Regions from separate parts of the Homo sapiens genome. Here region 2 is linked to region 1. The links come from fine-mapping of genetic effects on gene expression. A gene starts in region 1. The other region holds a variant in brackets. All regions are shown on one strand. Distances are between the middles of the regions. Region 1 holds the start of SPTSSA (serine palmitoyltransferase small subunit A). Region 2 has its middle 83 kb from the start of SPTSSA.

Region 1 (2,916 bases):
GTCTGGGCTATCTTGGTATCCTAAAGGATACGATCCACAAAAATATCATTTACCACACCTCACTGTAATCCATTAACTTGCCTCTCTTCCCCAGCAGACTGGGTACTTTATGAAGGCAGGTCTCAGTCTATCTGGCTTGCTATCCCAATGTCTGGCACTTGATATTACTTACTGTTTTCTTTCTTTTCTTCTCTTCTCTTCTGTTTTCTCCTCTCTTTCTCTGTCTCCTTTCTTTCCTTTCTTTTGCTCTGCCACCTAAGATGGAGTGCAGTGGCACCATCCTGGCTCACTGCAACCTCGACCTCCCGTGCTCGAGCAATCCTCCCGCCTCAACCTCCTGAGTAGCTGGGACTACAGGTGCACGCCACCACCCCTGGCTAACTTTTTGTTATGTATTTACTTATTTTTTTTGGTAGAGACGGGGTTTCACCATGTTGCTCAGGCTGGTCTCGACCTTCTGGACTCAAGTGATCCGCCAGCCTCAGCCTCCCAAAGTGCTTGGATTACAGGCATGAGCTACGGCGCTTGGCCGGCACTTGGTACTTTTAATGAATAGTTATTAACCATGAAACTTTTAAAGTTTAAGCAGTAGTATGTTTAACCTGGAAGACTTTTAACATTTAAACAGCAGGCCATTTAATTGTGGCAGTTCACATGCTACACCAGTGCATGGAGCTCCTTGTGGCCAGTGCAATGTTGCTGGCCCATCTGGCAGTGGGAAAATCTGGGCATCCAGGAGTGCATCTCTAGGGAAGTATCACCAGCCCTCACACCAATCTCAAGCTGCCTGTCTTCTGCAGAACCCACTAGATCAGCGCGCTTCTGGCCTTGACCCACTTGGTGGTTACCTACAGCCACTAAGAGGTGGGCAGATAGATGTTTTTGGTAAGTGGTCTCTGGGTTAGGGAGTGCATGGGTTATGTCCGTCTAGGGGTGTGTGTGTGTGTGTGTGTGTGTGTGTGTGTGTGTGTGTGTGTGTGCATGGGTGGGGGAAGGGAGGAAGGAGGCCGAATGTGCATCCCTTCTACAAGGACGCCTTTCCAGACCTCCTTATTAGGTGGCGTTCGCCTCCTCACCCTCTCTCAGCCCCTTATCTCCTCTTACACGGATCACGACTTGATTAATGCTTGTCTCCCAGCTAGGCCGCCAGCTGCACAAGGTAAGGAACCGAAGGCATTCCGGTTCTCCCTGGCAATCCTCCTTCTCAGAAGGATGCCTGAGGCATAACAAGTGTTCCAGAAATATTTCTTCCGCAAGCGCTCTGGGCCAGTCTGGACGGACCGAGCGCCCGCTGGGCTGCGGGGGCCCCGGGACCCCGGCCGGCACTGACGCCCCGCCCACCACCGGCCGGCCCGGGCGGGGTGGGGCGCGGCTGGGCGCTCTCGCGGGGACCGTTCTCCGGCTAGCGTGGGCGATGCCCGGGCGGGGAAACGGGAGGGGACGACGCGACGCGAGGTAGCGGCCTGGCCAATGAGCGCGGGTCGGGCGGGGCTGGGGGCCGGCGGCCGGGGCGCGCGCGGGTCTGGGCGTGCCGCGGGTGACGGCGGGGCCGGGCGGGCCAATGGGCGCTGGGTGGCGGGCGGGCGGGCCTGGCGGCCGGGGGCTTTAGGACGTGAGCGGGCGGCCGGCCGGACAGACTGACGTGTGAGCTGCATCGCGGGAGGCGCATGGCGGGGATGGCGCTGGCGCGGGCCTGGAAGCAGATGTCCTGGTTCTACTACCAGTACCTGCTGGTCACGGCGCTCTACATGCTGGAGCCCTGGGAGCGGACGGTGTTCAGTATCCTGTCCCGGCCGCGCGCGCGGGGGCCGGGCTGGGGGCGCGGGCCGCGGGGCCGCATTTCCCCAGGCCCCGGGCCTGGGGTGGAGGCTGGAGCGGCGGCCCCGCCGGTCCTGTGCGCGGAAGCCGGGGGTGCAGGGGGAGGTCTGGGGGCCGAGGGCGGCGCTCGCGGGGTTAAGTGGGGGGTGGGGGAGACGAGAACTCTTGAGATCCGGGGTCACCTGTGAGTCGCTGGACCCAAGGGGGAAGCGTCTTGATTCCTGGAGGAAATCTCCGAAGGTGATGTGTAACCCTGTGTGTCGCCTGCACTTCGGCCGCAACTGCCTTTGGTTCAGTCCCCTGTTCCTGTAGGAGGCGGGGATCATGTAACAGTGGAGCACATCGCTCCCGGCTTGGACGCCTTTGACCTTTAAGTGTTCCTGATTTAGTTGGCTTTGGGTCTACCAAGAATTCTAGTCAGTTAACTAGCTTTTAAGCCAGGTTCTGAATTTGTAGGCATGACACTCCAGTAGTTTTTGAAAGCAGTTTAAGTTATTGTATCTTTTTGGTCTTCAAGTTGGGGAGTTTTAAAAGTGTATTTATTGCTTCTGTGCACCGTCCGTAGAAGTCGGCCCGAAAAGTGGTGCAATTTGTGGTTAGTTGTCGGTAGGGTTTGAAACTGTGTTTTGGTGGATAGTTAATAAATTCTTGTTAATGACTATTGAGTGGTTACTATAAGCAAAGCATTTGTGCAAAGCACGTTGTCTGTATCTTAACTCATCTAACTTTGAGAACTTCAGTTAATAACTCAGGGTTGTGAAGATAGGCTCCCTGAAAGTCTGATGTTTCTTGTCTCTGCTTGTCCATATTGACATCCTTTGATGATATTCTTGCAGATTAAATACTGATAATGAATGAGATGTAACTTTTAAAAAACTCAGGCCAATACAAAACAGGTATTTCACAAAACATGTTTAGTTTATCCACGTTCTCTCCTTTTCAGTGTGGTTTAGTTGGAGTAGCTTACTTCAGAATAACTTTGCGAATGCATTGTTGCATTCCAGTGAGTGACTGAGGTAATTTCATTCTAAGCCTTATCAAGTGTGTTTATTTGTTTTGAGATAGCTTAAGGTTGTACTCAAAGCTGAGTCTTTTGTT
Region 2 (2,916 bases), 83 kb after region 1:
CAGCATGGGTAACATAGAGAGACCCCCGCCCCCTTACCAAATCTCTAAAGACAGACAGACAGACAGACAAACAAACAAACATCTAGCACGGGAACAAAGGCAATTGGAAAATAGGTTAAGCATATTTTTAGGAAGCTGAACAAGTTTTTAAGAGCTAAAACAAGTGAGAAGTATGCTAAGTAATGAAGTGTGGACTTACAAAGCAGCCTACTGTAAATTCTTTTGATTATTAATTTGCTAAAGGCCCTTGAGTCATGAATACAGATGAAAATCTATGGAAAATTGACACGTGTTCTCAAATTGGGGCCATACATCACCACGGCCAAGATATGGTGCAATATGATAGTCTTAAATGCTTAACGTAATGCTATGCCTATAATTACATGTATGGCGTTATCTTTAATATGAACTGATTAATGAGGGTGACATAAAGCAAGGATGAATGTTAGTTATTCAGACACTGATGTTCAGATAGCCACCTGAGAAGTCATTTTTCTCAAAGTTCTATTCCTTAAGGATTGTAGAAATGTCAATTGTTTTTGCAGTTTCCATTTCAAGAAGCAGTTATTCATAATCCCCAGAGAACTCTTCCCTAACAGACTACAATAAAACTTACAATTAATGGTGGTGACATTTTAGACCTAAATTACTGCCTTCATGCTTTAAATCATTATCCTGCTATCCCTATGCATGGAACTTTCAAAGTTTTCATTTCATTCCTGGCTTATCTCTCATCTCCACTGCGTGACTAGTTCCTTGTCCCTTACAAACGAATGCAGGAGGCTGAATTTCTAATGTTCCCCTTAAAATTCTCCTACTTGTTAACAGTACTTTTATGGTAGTTCATCTAAAATAGTTTTTCAACAAACTTCTCAAAGGCTGTCTCTGGCTGTCCATTTTCTTTCTTCATTTTTTAGCTGAATAGCTGGTATACACTAGTCCATTCTGGTATTTGTGTGTTTCCTCCCCTCTCTCTCTTTTTCTACTTTATTTCTCAAAGGTGATTGATATCTTCAATCCCTAGTTACCCCATCATGTGAGCCTCTTTGTTCTCCATGTCCTTCCCACTCTGCTCACAGGGCCCTTGGACTCTGCCTCCCTCTCTCTATCCTTCTTCAAAGGCCACTAAAGAGGTTCTTTTTACGAACTTTTTCTTGGTAAACTGAAGACAGAGTGCTGGGAAACGAAACCTTGAAAAAGACCTTGGAAACCTTGACCAGACGCTGGGCAGTCTGGTTCCCTT[T/A]GTCTCTCAGCCCCCAAGGGCTTCTCTCCTCTATCCCTGCTGTGAGCTAGTCACTGGAAAAACACACCTGACCTTGCCAGCCAAGTGAGGGTGCCAAGAATGAGAGGGAAGCATTCTTCTCATCAGCAGATGGGAGGTCTCCCTCAAAGGATTTCTCAATGCCGCCTGAATCAAAGCCTGTGTTTCCCAGAGCAAGGTATTCCCTGGAGGCCTCCTGAGCTCTGGCCACAGTGTTCTCATACAGCTAGCAAGAAGTCATAATGGAATTCGCTCCAACAATCCCACTGCCTTGTTGTTGTTCTGTTCTTGAAGCTTACTCTGTATCATAAACATAATTATAAGAAGAAGTTAAACATATAAATGTGTTCTAAAGAAATGGGCTTTTGTGGCAGGGCGCAGTGGCTAACGCCTGTAATCCCAGCACTTTGGGAGGCCGAGGTGGGTGGATCACCTGAGGTTGGGAGTTCGAGACCAGCCTGGCCAACATGGTGAAACCCCCGTCTCCACGAAAAATGCAAAAATTACCCGGGTGAAGTGACACGTGCCTGTAATCCCAGCTACTCAGAGGCTGGGGAAGGAGAATCACTTGAACCTGGGAGGCAGAGGTTGCAGAGAGCCGAGATCGCGCCACTGCACTCCAGCCTGGGCGACAGAGCGAGACTCTGTCTCAGAAACAAAACAAAACAGAAATGGGCTTTTGCTATGCAGTGGATGGGACCTCGGCTTTTTGAGAGTGATTGGTGGTATGCAAAATGTGGAGAATCCCTCCTCGAGGCCAGATTCTTTGGTATCAATAGTGCTTCATGTAGAGATCCTTTTGTTTGGATCTCTACAATCTTTGGATTGTTTGTCAGAGATTGAGAAGGCACCAGTCTCCTCCTTTTCCCATTGGTTACCACCTCCTGTGTGCATAGAATATTGTATTTTTAAAATCATAGAGTTAGAACATAGGGGTGTGGGTAAATTTTCCTTAGTCCAATACAATTAATTTGATATCCAAAATGAGCTTGTTTCCTGCTTTGCATTTCAACCCCCTAACCCACCCATCCCCACTTTACCCAACATTCTTTGAAGGCTGGGGTTTATCTCATCGTTGAGAAGGAAAAGGCCAAAGGCTTGACTTTCAAATAATTCATTTCCTGCAGTCGCTCACATTCCCAGTCTCTTTTCTTGTTCCTATTTTTAGCTGGTCATAGCTCTTTATAATTTGGAAATTAAAGTCCTTAAAAACAAAGAAATAAACAATTTCACTGGGATGACTGTCAATTTTAAAATAAGCAATTGTTGAGTGCCTACTATAAACTCAGAATGGACTAGGCACTTAAAAAAAGCCAAATTAAAAACAAGGTCCATGTCATTAAGAATCTCATAGTCAGCAGGGAAGGCAGTTGCATAAACAAATAATTTAATACAAAGAAATAAATTGCTTTCATGAGGTTATATATCTGGACCAATGAGAAAATCGGAGAAATGGAGCTTCTTAGTAGATCTGGGCAATGCAGACAAAGCTTTCCAACAGACATATCTTCTCTAGGAGGAGTGTGTGGGGAGGGGTTGTTACAGAGGTGGAGGGGATAGTATGTAGCTCAGAGAATGGCATGTGTGCAGGCCCAGTGGCTCTGGAGGACAGCACGTACTCAGAGTCACCACAGCAATCGAGTATGTCTGGAGAA

What was found.
Region 2: its variant is fine-mapped to the expression of SPTSSA in thyroid (GTEx, PIP 0.97).

The regions. Positions count from the first base shown.
Region 1 is chr14:34,460,959-34,463,874 of GRCh38, reverse strand. It overlaps SPTSSA (serine palmitoyltransferase small subunit A), which reads left to right and starts at 1,635. Exons shown (of 2, transcript NM_138288.4): 1 at 1,635-1,779. The coding sequence starts at 1,668. RefSeq lists silencers at 1,113-1,622, 1,743-1,912 and enhancers at 822-1,772, 2,313-2,422.
Region 2 is chr14:34,378,099-34,381,014 of GRCh38, reverse strand. No RefSeq gene overlaps it. Among named protein-coding and RNA genes, the nearest start is that of SPTSSA, 83 kb to the left of the region's middle. The variant T/A (reference allele first, on the strand shown) is at 1,244.